Linked DNA regions of Homo sapiens. The protein of the gene in region 2 interacts with the protein of the main gene of each other region in a pairwise test. Each region holds a gene or a part of one and is shown on either strand. Other genes may lie near its edges.

Region 1 (4,643 bases), on a different chromosome or scaffold from region 2:
TTTTGTTCATTGAACACAGTATAAAATAAGGGGATTGTGGTGGTGAGGAAGCAGAGGGGATTCATAAGGGCCCTTTAGGTGAGCCAGCTGGAGCTGGGTTTGGCTTTGGTCCATGGCAGGAGTGGGCAGGGCTTCCTGTCTCTTTGAGGACCTTCCCTCCCACCACCCCCACAGCTCTGGCCTTTCAGGGTGGACAGAGGCCTTTGACCTCCTTCCTCCAGAGACCTGGGGCCTCTGCAAACCCATCCCAAGGCTCTTTGCCTGCAATGTACTAATCTGCTCTGGTTTCTTAAAACTCACTCCATGCTATTGCCTTGAAGTCAATTGTGATGTCATGGGAGATTAGGGCAACTTGTCAGGGATGAACCATCACAGCAGATGGACTCAGAGATACCAAGACACCTTTGGAAGTCTAGTGCCGTTCATCAGAGATACTAAGATGGCACGACCTCCCCGGCCTGCAGCTGGTTCTCATCAGAGGCCTCATTTGGACTCTGAGCACTCTCAGCTCAGCATCTCCTGATGTTGTGGGTGGTTCAAGAGACAAGAGAAACAGATGTAGATTGGTCAGAATCTGGCTGGGGAGGTGGGAATGACATTGTGGTGCTCACAGTTTTATCGAGGAATATTTGCACCACAGCAGACCTCTGCAGGATGATGGAAGATGCCGGACTTGCTGTCAGAAGCTGGCTGGGCATCCCCCCACACAGGGAGATCTCCTGGCAAGTTGTAGAACTGGCTGACCCTCGGCTTCTCAGCTGTCTATGGAGGATCATAGCATCTGCCACGTAGGGCTGTTTTCCTGAGGTTTAAATAGGATGAGGCTTGTGAAATGGGATGTGAAATAAGAGACTGACGTGGAGGAGAAGTGCAAACAGGGAGGTGAGGTGTGCTTGAGGTTTTAAAGCAGCGGAATGTTACACAGTATTTCTGGCCTGTTCCCCGGGTCCTTTCCTGACCCCACCCTGGCTGTGAGCAAGGCAGGGCTCCTCTGTCCTGGGCAATCGGTGATCCTTGGAGCAGCGGGGAGTTCTGTCCACTGCAGAATGCCTGGCTGTCTTTTCAGGTTGTTTTAATTCCTCCTTGCTACTCTCAGCCCTCCTGCAGGCTTACAGTTCCCTCCCATTAGCTAAACAAAGGATCTCAGAGCAGTTACTTGCACCTTAGTGTGAATGATTTTGTTCACTTGTTCCGTCTCCCTGGATATTTGCATTTTCAATATAATGAGGTTGCGTTTTATGCCAGGGACAAGTTCTAGGAGACCCTGCATCATTCAAAACTAACATATTTTAAGACTAATTTTCCTGTAGGAATTAATGTAGAGTGTGTGGGGGGGGGGGTGGTATATTCTGAGAGCACATAAATCCATAACCAGTGAAGTGTATCTTTGCCTTAATGCTACTTTTTATTTTCTCAGCATTATCTTGAATACCTTGCAGAACGCTCTCTCCTAAATTAACAGCCCAGGGTATCATGGGCTCCCTTGGCCTTCCTCATAGCGTTTTGTCACATTTAACTTCCGTACCAAAGTTATTGATTTTTGGGTACATTTTTCAGCACGAGCACTGCCACTGCTACTTAATGAATACTTGGATGACATTGTTATGGGATATAAAAAAGATTTTAAATTATAATAACAGTGAATGTTAAAATAACAGCATATTAGTCCCCATCATTGCAAGAAGAAAATCCTGTGTGTGTAGCAGTGCCGAACCAGCGGGCCACCAACCAGGATGACGGGTCTATCCCAGTGGCGCTACCATCTGGCTGTGGTGAAAAGAATTTATAATTCCGTAGGCCAAGCTATTTTGAAATTAAGTGATTCTCGAGAAATTAAAACATTTTTGGTGATTGCATTATTTCACATTTTTTAATATAAAGATTGTACACAAGTGCACTATTTCCCATTTGCATAATTCAAAGTTGCATCAGACACTCCCGTGTAGACTATAAATATGCACAGAAGGGACAGACTCCTCAGAATGAAAAGGAAGGCATTTTGGAGGTTCCCCTTTGTCTTTTGGAATGACTCTCTAAGTAGTGTAGTCTCTGTGGCAGGGGCTCCGGAATCCCTACCCTTCGGGTTCAGGGCTTCAGGGAGGGAGTTGGGCCACAGTAGTTCCGGGATGACAGTGGCCACGTGAGAGAAGAAAACAGCCCGAGGAGAAGGGAAGGCACGGGTGTGTCCCCCCTCACTGTGTACACACATGTCCTGGCTGCACAGCTGCTTCATTCCTCTAGTGCCTCCCAAGATCAGGGCAGGCCGTGTTGCCCTCTGGACTTCCAAGGGGGAAGTGAGTTACTGGCCCAAGTCACTCACTCATCAAGAACACTGAAGCCAGGTCTGCTGACTCCAGGGAGAGCCTTGTAGATTGTGAGGACCGAATGCATATAAAGTCCTTAGTCAACACCAGCACATGGTAGGTGCTAACACATGTTGGCTACTATTGTTTCTAAGAGAGGGTTTTCTTGAATGGAAAGAAAGGAGAAAAGACAGAGAGGAAGTCAGGAATGTCACAGAGACACCTTCTGGGGCACACAGGTGAGCAAGCACAGAGAGCAGAGCTGCCCAGGCCAGCTGCTGACTTTATTCCGTGTGTCCTCCAGGGGCACTGTGGAGAAAAGGGCAGTATGCCTAAGTGCTGGGAGAGGAAACAAACCTTTACATTCACCTGTGCTTCCGAACACACGCACGCGCCTCTCTCTGTACCTGACTTTGAATGGAACAAACCAGACTTTAACTAACAGGAACTTGAGCTTGTTCACTCAAAATCTGTCTAGGACTTTGTGTTGATCAGTCAGTGTGTTGCCCAGAACATTCCTTAGACTAGTTTTCTCAAAAAATTTTGACTACAATCCACAGTAAAACTCATTTTACATTTCATCTCAGTACACATATTTATACAATAAAAACTAAAGTTTAATGAAATGATCTTGCCATTCCATCCCATTCTCTTCATCTGATTTCCTGTTTTAGTTTTGATCCACTAAGGTGACTTTACAGCCCACGAGTGGGTTCTGACCTATAGTTTAGAAACCTGCTTAGACACTGTTGGGTGTGCAAGCTCACCCCTGGCTGTGAGCCCAGCGACGCCAGGGCAAAGGTGACATGGCTGTGGGGAAATGGGAGACTCCTGATGAGACAGAGGGGAGGGCATCTGGGGCGACTTTGAACATGACTTCAACCTGGCTGTTCACCTTCACAGCTCTGGCAAGAACTCATGAGGATGTGTGAGCAGAGTGTTTGTCATGACAGGGACGTGTGGAATTGGGTACATTCAATCTGATGAGACTTCTGTGCAGCTGGGCTGGCAGGGGAGGGTTGAGGCAGGGAGCTGAGCAGAGAAAGGACTGCTGTCCTCACTTTTCAGTGGCTTGGGAAGGCCCGTGGTGCAGGAGTCAGTGCCATGAGAGTGGGGACCTCTCCACTCTGATGTCCCCTGTGCCTCGCGCTGTCCTGCCTACAGCAGGCAGGCTTAGGTGCAGAAAGGATGGAAGGGAGGGTGTGGGAGGAGGCGCAGCTGCTGCAGATAGGCCGAAGCCAGTAAGCAGTGGTTTTTCCTTGCAGATGACTCAGAGGCTGGAGCTAAGCGGCCCCGGACCACCATCACAGCCAAGCAGCTGGAGACATTAAAGAATGCATACAAGAACTCCCCCAAGCCTGCCCGGCACGTGAGGGAGCAGCTGTCCTCAGAGACAGGCCTGGACATGAGGGTCGTACAGGTGAGATGCCAGCACTCCTGTGCCCTCCGGGGATCCCAGGCCCGGGACAGGGGTGGAAGGTATCCTGAGTGACATCAGCTCACGGGTGGTTGGGCTCAGGGCTTGACCCCAGGGCTTTTGCCAGAACTGAAGACAGAGTTCTGAGGCCCACCTGGGGAGAGGGGGTGGGGCGCATCGCACTCCCAGACCTGTGCTCCATTCAGGCTTCAGTCTGCTTCCAGCCGCCCGCCTAGGGGGTCCTGGGGGCTTTGGGTTTGTGGTGGACGCCCCCTGAGTATGTCCCTTGTGCTTGTGTGGCAGGTTTGGTTTCAGAACAGAAGGGCCAAAGAGAAACGCCTGAAGAAGGATGCAGGGCGGCACCGCTGGGGGCAGTTCTATAAGAGCGTCAAGAGGAGCCGGGGCAGCAGCAAGCAGGAGAAGGAGAGCTCTGCAGAGGACTGTGGGGTTAGTGACAGTGAGCTGAGCTTCCGAGGTGAGCAGGGCTGGAGGGGCCAGGCCGAGGCCTTAGGAAAGTCCCCTGGGAATCTGTAATCCCTGGCACTCAGGAGGGATCTTTCTTGAGGCCTTGGCAACTCCCTCCTGAACACAGGCTTTTCCTTAAGACTTGCAGTGAAGGGTGGGGGAAATGGTAGTGGCCCTTTACCATGGGACAGGAGTAGGAAACAAGATTGCTGAGGTCTGGAAGCTGGGATGGGCCAGGCCCCGTCCTGTGGCCCCAAGGTCTCCCCTCCCCTCCTGCTGACTGGGGCCTCCCTCATCAGCCCACACAGCTATGAACAGATGACTGGGTTCCAGCCTTGTGCCCCTAGCCCCTCTCCCATCTTTGTCCCCTTTGCTGGGACACTGGCCTACTCCCATAGTCCCCTAGAGCCACCCCTTCCTCCAGTCCTGGTGGTGGGGAGGTCATGCTCCACAGGTTT
Region 2 (4,643 bases):
GTCAGCTGTTAATCTCATTAGGATTCTCTTATATGTGATCAGTTGTTTTTCTCTTGCTGATTTTAAGATTTTCTGTTTGTCTTTGGCTTTCGAAATTTTGACTTTGATGTGTCTGCATTTGGATCTCTGTGTTTTTCCCTTTTGGAATTTATTGAGCTTCTTGGATGTGTAGATTTATATCTATACACACACATATATATGTGTGTGAGTGTGTGTATATATATATATGTGTGTGTGTATATATATATAAAATTTACAAATTTGGATAGTTTTACTTTCTTTAAAGTTTTTCCTGTGCCTTTTTCTCTCTCCTCCGCTTCTGATACTGTAGTTATTTATATGTTGGTGCACTTAATGGTATCCCACATTTCTCTAATGCTCTGTTTATTTTTCTGCAATTTTTTCTTTCCTTTCTTGCATTTCATCTGTTACATAATGTCTATTAATTTATGTTCAAGTTTGCTGATATTTTCTTGTTCACAAATCTACCACTGAGCCTTTCTAGAGTGTTTCATTTTACTTACTATACTTTTCAACTCCAGAATTTCCATTTGATTATCTTAAATTATTTCTCTCTTTATTGATATTATTTATTTGATGAGACATTGTCATCATAATTTCCCTTAACCTGTTAAGCAAAGTTTCATTTATGTCTTTGAGCATATTTGTAATAATTGCTTTGAAGTGTTTGTTTGCCCAGTCTACCACCTGTGCCTCATCTAGAGGCAGCTTCTTTTGGTTTTCTATGTGTATTGATCACATCTTTATGAAGTTTTTTTATGTCTCATAATTTTTTTGTTGAGAACTGGATATTTTAAGTAACATAGCAACTCTGGATACTGATCCCTATTGTGGTTGTTTGTTTGGTTATTGGTTTATGTGTATATAACAGTGATATAGCTGAACAAATTCTGTAAAGTCCATTTTCCTCACAGTGTGTAGCTTCTGATATCCCAGCTCAGACTTTTCCCCTCTTAACCTGACTACTTATGTGGCATTTCTGGATTGGCATAGACTATGTACTGGTCACAGGTTGTGCTTACATTCCCTGAGGTAGGTAGATTTTTACCCTTAAGTGTTAAATGTGTGTGTGGCTTGGTGGCTGCTATTATAGTTCAGGGAGTTTACATTTTTTTTTGTCCTGCATTTAGCCAGGTGCTAGAAGCTTGGAAGTTAGTTCCTGAGAGGGCCCAACCTTGAGCATGTACACAGTGTTCCAGACTGTCAGGGATGACAGTGCTGTTTCATTTAACCCTGGCTTCATAGGAATTACCCCTGGGTCAGAGTAGCTTCTGTTACGTCGTGTTTGGCCAGAGGTGGTGATTCAGACCCTTGTGCCAATGAAGTTTCTCCGCTCTGTCAGTGGGTACGTGTATAGCTTAGAGAACGTTTTCAAGACTGCCCCACGTTCTGCCCTGATCATTCCTGGGTGTACACAGCCTAGTGTTTTTATACTGCCTTTCTGACTCCTCTCTGATCTAAGAGGGCTCTTCTTGGCTGTCTCTGGTTCTCTGCATTAAACTTCTGCTTGCTCTGCCTTTCTGCTTATATTGGAGCTCCTAGCCTTTCTTAATTGTTTTTCATTAATATTTCCACTGTTTTCTTTCTTTCTTTTTTTTTTTTTTTTTGAGATGGAGTGTCGCTCTTGTCGCCCAGGCTGGAGTGCAATGGTGTGATCTTGGCTCACTGAAACCTTTGCCTCCTGGGTTCAATCAGTTCTCTTCTCTCGGCCTCCTGAGTAGCTGGAACTACAGGTGCACGCCACCACACCTGGCTAATGTTTTGTATTTTTTGTAGAGTTGGGGTTTCACCATGTTGGCCAGGCTGGTCTCAAACTCCTGGCCTCAGGTGATCTGCCCATCTTGGCCTCCCAAAGTGCTGGGATCACAGGCATGAACCACCACACCCGGCCCACTGTTTTTGATAATGCCCTTAGGCATGGGGTTCTGCTCTCTGTTCCAAATAAAGTCAGTCCTCTCAGATGGAAATGTAGAGCTCTTTGTCCTTATGGCTCGTCTTTACCCCTGAGCAAAGTCTCCATGCCACTGCTCCTGGGGCTGAAGGTGAGAGTCTTTTTTCCCCAGAGTAACACTCCATTCTTAGAGTGGGCAGTGGAGTGCTGGTAGCAGCCCTTGGTCTTCTTAGCTGACTGCTCCTGGCACAAAACCTCTACTCTGGGAGGAAGTTGGGGCGGTGGCAGTCAGGGCCCAGTATTTGCAGCCTGCTGTACCTGGAATAGAAATTCTACCTTTTGAATGGGGGCTGTGTAGGGAAAGAGAGACGGGTCCTCTGTGTCACCTCTCCAGAACAGAGCTTCTACACCTCTGGGCTGAAGGAGAGGAGAAACACCAGCAGCCTGCCCTTCCCGGGGTAAAACTAGCCACAGACTGGAAGCCTGAGGGAGAGGGAGCCCTCTGCCTGTCTTTTGGGTACATATACCGCAGGTAGAGGCTTCATAATACAGACCTGGTAGGATGTGGGGAATGGTGCAGTTTGTAACTCAAACGCCACAGACTCTGACTTGTTCTGAGATTGAGTACATTTTCTTGAATGAATGTTTCTCCACTTTTTGTATGCCCTTAGTACAGTTTCCAGAGACTTTAAATGTTTGTTTTTTAAAAAAATTTTCAGCAGTTTTTAATTTTTAATTAATTAATTTTTGTGAGGCAGGGTTCTGCCGTGTCAAGCTGGAGTGCAGTGGCGTGATGTTAGCTCACTGCAGCCTCAAACTCCTAGGCTCAAGTAATCCTTCCATCTCAGCCTCTCAAGGGGCTAGGACTATAAGCATGCATCAGCATGCCTGAGTAATTTTTATTTTATTTTTTTGTAGAGATGGAGTCTCACTGTGTTGCCAGGCTTGCCTCAAACTCCTGGCCTCATGCAAACCTCCCTTCTCAGCCTCACCAAAGCCCTGGGATAACAGGTGTGAGCTACCACGCCCGGCCTACTAGTTTTTAAAATGTAGTTTTGCCAGTTCCACTGAGCTCCTTATTCTGTCATTCTGGAAGTTCTCGTTCATTTTTAAGCTTTTAAGATCAGGTTTGAGATCTTCTTTATATGTAGAGGCAAGGAAGTTGTTATTACCAAATATGATTTCCTGAAGATACTATACTCATGCTAACAAAATAAATTATACTTTGTTGTAGTAAACTAAAATTTATATCAGAAAACTTGAAACCAGTCTGGAAGGCAGCCTTATTTTCCTTATATAGACCAGGATTTTGACTTTAAACTCATTTTCCACACAGCTTTTCAATTTGATGATTCAGACTGACTGTTCCCAGGCTCTGTAAATAAAGATTCTCTTTGTAACAGATAACATTACGGACAGGCTCTACCAGCATACCCATTGCCCTTGAAACTTTACAAAATGCTTTGCCGCTTTGTACTAGCTTTTTCTTCTTCCCAGCCTGCTTCTAATTACAAACAGGAAAATCAGACAGGATATGGCATTGTGACTGAACAAGTTCATTCATCTAACATTATTAAATACCTGCTTCATAACCGATAACTGGTGAATATTCTTTTTATTACCTATAAATGTGTCCTAGCCTAGAGCCATTCTTACTATGGTTGCGATATTTTAAAGTTATTAATTTAAATTTGACTTAACTCTTTGAGCATAATTATGCAAAATAGTCATTTCTTTGGAGAGAAAACTTACTGTAGAAAATGGAAATGTTTAATCTTATAAAATGCATCTTTTTAAAGAAACCCAGAGCATCTGTGAAGCAAAGCAATTAAACTAAATGTTAGCAACATAGGAGAGGAGAAATAACTGTCCATGTGTGAAAAGGAGACAGTGGGGCTTGGTAACTTAGGGGAAGAAGTGATGTTCAGGAGGCCTTAGGTGTTGCTTTAATATTCTCTGTACTGCTAGCTGTGAATCTAGACAAAAAATTGTATTATTCTCTGCTTCGGTTTTTTTCCTGACTTTAATTGGAAAATAATCACTTATCTCTCCTGCACATTGGATTGTGGACGAAAAAAATAGTGTAATTTGATAAGGAATTGTATAAGATTTGAAGTGCTTTAGGAATGTTCAATACAATGGTACCTGTCCCACCCAAAGCGATTTATAACAGAAAGCTCTGAAAGGATGTTGCTGAAACACTTTCATTTATAACCTGGCCTAAAGCGAAGTCTTAGGTAAGGTGTTTTATAGCGGAGCACACATGTTATATGTATGCTGTATAAAGGGAACTTTCCTATTTTCTATTCTCTTTTCTAATAGAGAAAAGATAGAACTCGTAAGGCAAATATTTTTCTTAACTATTAGCTCCAATCTCATTCTTCCAAATTTTTCTGGTTATTTTCAGAAGAAAAACTAAATTTAGGTCACACTTTCTTTCCTTCTCTCTTTCTCACAGTTAAATGGCCCAATGAAATGAACATTAATAAAAAAAAGCAGTAGGAATTGTGAATAGTTTACTGGACAGTTTGGTCTTAAACTTTAAATCATTGTCTTTATTATGTGGTTAAAATATATAAGGTAAATAGTGGGTCCTAAACCAGAAGGCTTTGATCCTAGGGTGTTCTATTTTTCATTTCTTAGAAGCCAACCAAATTTAAAACATGAAGAAAAAAATGGGAAATAATCATAAAGCATTGCTTGAGTTTCCAAACATATATAAAAAATAACA
Region 3 (5,289 bases), on a different chromosome or scaffold from region 2:
AACCCCCCAGGGATCCTCCCCAGACTCTCCTGGACTTCTGGCCCTGTGCTAAGGAGTGTCTTTGGACCTGGGAGTCTCAGATCAATGCTCCAAAACTCCATGTTTCCTGGGCAGTTCATGTGAGTCAGATCCTGGGCTGGACTCAGAGACGATGGAGAAACAGAGCCTGCTCTGAAGGAAGCCACAGCCCAATGGGGTGGGTAGAGAAGCATGCCAGTGGACCAGAGGTGACAATAGATGTTTGTCAGCTGCAGAATTCAGGGCAATGGAGTGAACAGCTTCTTGGGGAGAAGCCAGAAAATTCTGCTCAGGGTTTCAAATGAGGGCTGGGGGAAAGGGGAAGGGGGAAGGGGGAAGAGGAGTGGCAAAAAGACAAGTGTGGGAGAGGGGAAACACATGCAACCACCTGAAGTCAGGTGTGTTGCTCTGCCACCCGAAGGCTGGCTGGGGCGGGAGGGAGGATGCCTGCCCAGGGAGGATGGCATTGTCTCAGGCCAGTGGAGAACATGGTGCCTAAGGCTCCAAGGCTGAACTAGTGATAGCAGCTGGAGCTGGGACTTGCAGGGCTTGGAGTAGGAATTCAGCCCCACCCTAAGGCAAAATCACTGGGCTCAAAGCTATCAGAAGTGGAAGCTGGGATGAAGAGAGGCCCTGGAAGGAAAGATAGGGCCTAGCCTGGCCAGGGGATTTGGAAGTTAAGCTCTTAGCATTTCCTTGGCACCCTGAGGCCCGTCTCAGCCCCTCCAGGCCCTTCTGGGATCCTCAGCAAGCTGGGGGTGGAGCTGTAGCCTGGGCCTTGTGCCAGTAGAGGGCAGGGCTGGGGCCAGGCAAATGCTGGGGGCCAGTCCCACTCAGGACTGTTCTAGAAGCAAGGGCATGTAGGTGGGGAAAGCAGGGTTGAGAGAGGGCTCCAAAAGTCACTCACAGACTCCTCACTGCTGGGAGTTTTTGCTGCCATCTTACGGGGGACCTTTTCCAGGATGGGCGTCTTGGTGAGTCCTGGTGCAGGGATGCAGAGGTGTGGACCTGGGGACCAAGAAGTGGGAAGCATCAACACAGCAGCCACATAGGCCTGTCACAAACCCTCCACCTCCCGCCAACAGACCCCCACCCCAGCCCCATGAGGAGGCCAGAGCCTGACAGCTGTGTATAGGGGTCTCATTGCAGGCGTGGCCCCAGTCTCTACTTCCACCTGTACGTGCTGACCACAGTGTTCTCTCTGGGCCCCCATATGGGAGAGAGTGGTTCCTAAAGTGAGGGTCTGCTCTCATGAGTCTGTTGTCACCCAAGGCCAGCTGACCACCCTGGGGCAATCCAAATCCACCAGGGGTTGCTGGCAGAGTGCTGCCTTTGTTCCTGCCTGGAACCCAATAGATAAGTGCTTTGCCAATCAAACTCTCTCTTTCCCACTAGCTTCTCAAGGGTAAGACCATACCTACTGTGCTCAGTGCTTCATCTCTGCATTCCGGCCACATCTCTGGTGTGGAGTAGGGTGAATTCCCTCACTCCGTTGGTGGAGGGAAAGGAATGCATGCGTGGGTGAATGGAGGCCTTTAAGGCCCTGTGCTCCAGGATGCATCTGGGCTAATTGGGAGCCTGGCCTGTGGCCAGGGCAGGGAGACTCTGGGCCTGCTGGAGGCGTTGTGACCTAGGCAGTCTCGGGTCTGCAGGCTGCCAGTGTAGATGCCATAGGAGTGCCCAGGGAGGTATGCAGGGAGGCTGGGCAGCCAGGGCCCCTAGGGGCCACCTGCCTTAGTCTGGGGAGAGGCAGATTAATTTTGAAGGTACAGTAGAAGTGAGCCAGGCCAAGAGGGCAAAGACTGTTATTATTAGGCTGTGGGTCACAATTGCTACCCTCTGAGATCCCCCTGAACCTAAGCCTCCACAGGCACATACTCATGTTTTCCACCAGCCCACCCTCTATTCTCTCAAGTCTAAAGCTGAGGTTTAGCTAATTTCCTCACCCCTCTCCCCACCCAACACCACCCCTACCCAGAGGCAAGCACCGCCCATGTATGGGCACCTGGCAGGGTTGTTGCCAGGAACAGAGAGTCCAGAAAGATGGATGAACCAGGCCCAAGGATGGAGGAGCCTGGGGCTGCCTTGCAGTGCTGGGCAGAGAATGTAAAGCCCTTGCTGGCACAGTGCAGGGACACTCTCCACAGGCTTGTTCCCACGCCTCCCAGTGCTGTGGGTTCGTAGGGGCTGCCCCCAACTGCAAAGTGAAAGAGGTGGCGTCCTGGTGAGGATTCACCGGAGCATGGCAGTCTTTTGAGAGGACAGCAAGGACAAGGTCAGGTTGGTAAAGGCCCTACAGACCATGCAGCCAATGCCTCCTTTTGCTCTGGCCCAGAGCCCCCCCCTCCCCCCCATTCGGGAGACACTAGTCAGGCTTCAGGGACCCTGAGCTTGAAGAAGGCAGAGCTGGGTGGGATGGTTTCCTGGTGGTCCCACCTACCAACTCTTCTTCCTCCATCACTCCTGGGCAGATGCCTAGAGGATGTATGTGTATATATGTCTGTTTGTGTTTTGTGCCTCCCACCCATGCTCCTGCCAGCCTGGCTTTCCAAGGGCTGCCTGCTCTGCCCCGAAGGTCCAACCCCAGTCTGGCCGGTCATTCACAGGCTGTCATCGGCTATGTCCTGGCTCAGACTTGCCACCAGCCACTGCTCCTCCTTCCCCACCCCCTGCTCCCGGGAGAAGCGGTTGCCAACCAGCAATTCAGGCGAGTCGGGTCAGACCCAAGGACCCTCCGACTAGACACAGAAAGCGCGGACCTGGTCACTTAGCAGATGCTGGGCCAAGTGAAGTGAGAACATGCGCTTGGAGTCCCGAAGCCCTGATGGTTAAGCCTCCCCAAGCCCAGGCACCGAAGCAACGCAATCCTGCAGCTTCCTAGCTGACCCCCGACGGCCGCTGCTGCGCAGGACTCAGAGGACTCCACGAGTCCTGGGGCCTCTCGGCCCCGGTGCTGTCCCTGGATAGAGCCCCCGACCGCCGCCCTTGCTCCCGGCACCGCGCTCCGCCAGCCCAGCCCAGCCCTTCTTCTCACCTGCTCTCCTCGGCTCTGCTGCCTCGGCCGACGCTGCACCGCACCACTCAGGAGTGTGGGCGGGGGTGTGAGCCGGAAGGGGTGGGGGGCGTGTCGCAGCGCGGGGGTGGGGGCTGCAGCCTGGGTTCCCGGCAGGGCCTCCGACGTCGCCCGGGTCCCCGCGGCCACCCGACTGGAGAAAGCAAGCTGGCCGCACTTCTCTCCTTCCTCTTGTACCTCCTCCCTCCTCTCTCTTCCATTTCCCCCCTCCCCCAAGCCCCCTCTTCTTCGCTGTCCTCAGCCCCATCCCTTCCCCAGCTCCCCGCCCAGGGATCTCAGCTCCCGGCCCCCAGAATCTACCCGGAGCGCTTCCCGGAGGAACTCGGGCAACAAATTTAGGCTCTAGAAGGGGGCACAGAACACTGTCCCGCCCATGCCTCCTGCCCCTAGCTCAGCATTTCCCAGTCACCGCACTTCCCCAACCCCATTATTCCAGCCTTGGGGTGCTGCTGCTGAATCCTGGAGAGGGTTGGGTCTGAGGAAGTCTCTGCTCGCTGCCCTCCTCTCCCCACCATCCAGGCCAGTCTCAAACCCTGCTACACCATCTTTCAAAATAATAATAAGAAACAATAACTGGGATCAATATTCACTGCAGGACTTCCCTTTCTGTTACCATCCCATTCCTGCTGGCACTATGGGGTGGGGAGCAGAGGTGGGGTGCTACAGACTTGGGACAATCCTGATGGCAGACCTGAGGATGCTTAAGGACTGCGGCAAGAGGCAGGCTCTCCTCTCAGACAAAAGCATCCCCCACCCCAGATAGAGACCCCCACACAGAAATAGCACAGACAGACCGACAAAGGCAGACTCCGCCCAGGCACACACAGCCCGACTCGCAGATCGAGGACAGACATGCGCACAACAGCAGAGCAGACCCTCACAGGCGCAGCTAACACACAGGCGACCCTGACCAGCCGCCTCTTCACGCTATGATGGGAAGACTCTGCCTCGATCATCAGACTACGGTCTTCGGGACATGGAGTGTTGCGCGAACGCTGGCTTGAGGCTCTCAGGGCTGGGACTAAGGATGGGAAACTTTCCTGACAGTCCTGGGCCGCTGCTCCCACTCAGGACAGGGTGGCAGTGGGGGTTGGCACCAGATCCCACACTCGCATCTCTCCCTTCAAGACTCAGACCCTCGGGACTGACAGGGATACAGCAAACACCAACCACGGCTCCCCCACTCCTCCTAGGACAAGTTCTCTAATGAACACACACATCACATCATACACACATTTCCAGAGGTCGGACTCTAAAAGATGGGCCGTTTTTCTTCCTCTGCCGGAATGCTCGGCTCCTACTCCTTTCTCAAAGCCTCAACGGGGCGGGATTCTGGTCTGAAGGGAAGCTCAGCCCAGGCACCTCAGAGCTCTGAGGCTGGTGTGGGGCGTGTCCTCAAAGGGCGGGGCCTGGCGTGCCTAGCTGGAGCGGGTCCTCAGGCTCCCCCGGGCGGCATCCCCGGGCTCTGCGCTAGGCCTGGAAAAGAGGGTCTATCCTGGGCTGAGGGGAGCATGGTGCTCCTTGGTGACCGTGGGTGACAGCCTTTGTTGGGTTTGCTTCCTTCCTATCCCCTTTTCCAGGTAGAAAAACAGCTACAGGTGCCTACGTGTTAGTTTGGCTTAGGTCTGGATTGGGACTTGGAGACCCAGTTCACCCTCCCCTCTGCTCTGGCCCTGCGCGCCTCCACGCACCCCCCACCAGTAAAGAGACTCGGCCTCCTGGGACAGACACAGTTTATTGATTTGGGCGGAGGCGCCGCGGTGCAGCGGCCCAAGTTTGGCACTGGGAGCAATGGAAGGAAGGACAGACAGATGCAGGCTCTACACAGGGGAGCCGCAGGTGGGGACTCAGGGTCCTCTTCACCTCCGCAAGGAGCGCGATGGCTTCGCTGGCCTCGGTGCTCCAAGCCCCATTGGACAAGAGAGAAAGGGATATGGAACGGGTCACAGGGAGGGGATTTGGGCAGAAGTCAAGGTTGAGGAGTGGCTGGGGTACTCGCTGGAGGAGGTGGGCCCTGAGCCAGAGCTGGCCAGTGGGCTTGCAGAGCAGCCCCCTTGACCCAAGGCGGTTGGGTGGGCTGGAGGAGGAGTGGGGATGCTAGCTGCGGGTGTAGTAGTAGTTGTAGTCGTCCTCGCACGCATCAAAAGGGCCAGGCGGGCTGCGAGGCTCGCCGTCCTGGCCAGACACAGGACGCTCAC

Evidence for each region.
Region 1: the proteins of PARP11 (region 2) and LHX4 interact in binary tests that used the Homo sapiens proteins (3 or more experiments, as listed by UniProt).
Region 3: the proteins of PARP11 (region 2) and CHAT interact in binary tests that used the Homo sapiens proteins (3 or more experiments, as listed by UniProt).

The regions. Positions count from the first base shown.
Region 1 is NC_000001.11:180,267,812-180,272,454, forward strand, and holds part of LHX4 (LIM/homeobox protein Lhx4), read left to right. Parts: intron 1-1,841; exon of another isoform or gene 1,842-3,568; coding exon 3,569-3,723; exon of another isoform or gene 3,724-4,023; coding exon 4,024-4,195; exon of another isoform or gene 4,196-4,643. UniProt on the Homo sapiens protein: May play a critical role in the development of respiratory control mechanisms and in the normal growth and maturation of the lung. Binds preferentially to methylated DNA.
Region 2 is NC_000012.12:3,831,620-3,836,262, reverse strand, and holds part of PARP11 (protein mono-ADP-ribosyltransferase PARP11), read left to right. Parts: intron 1-4,643. UniProt on the Homo sapiens protein: Mono-ADP-ribosyltransferase that mediates mono-ADP-ribosylation of target proteins. Plays a role in nuclear envelope stability and nuclear remodeling during spermiogenesis. Inhibits the type I interferon activated signaling pathway.
Region 3 is NC_000010.11:49,612,239-49,617,527, reverse strand, and holds the start of CHAT (choline O-acetyltransferase), read right to left. Parts: upstream 3,492-5,289; 5' UTR 3,339-3,491; coding exon 3,053-3,338; intron 1,506-3,052; exon of another isoform or gene 1,476-1,505; coding exon of another isoform or gene 1,436-1,475; intron 1,027-1,435; coding exon 926-1,026; intron 1-925. Other genes in the region: SLC18A3 (vesicular acetylcholine transporter), read right to left, coding at 5,189-5,289. UniProt on the Homo sapiens protein: Catalyzes the reversible synthesis of acetylcholine (ACh) from acetyl CoA and choline at cholinergic synapses.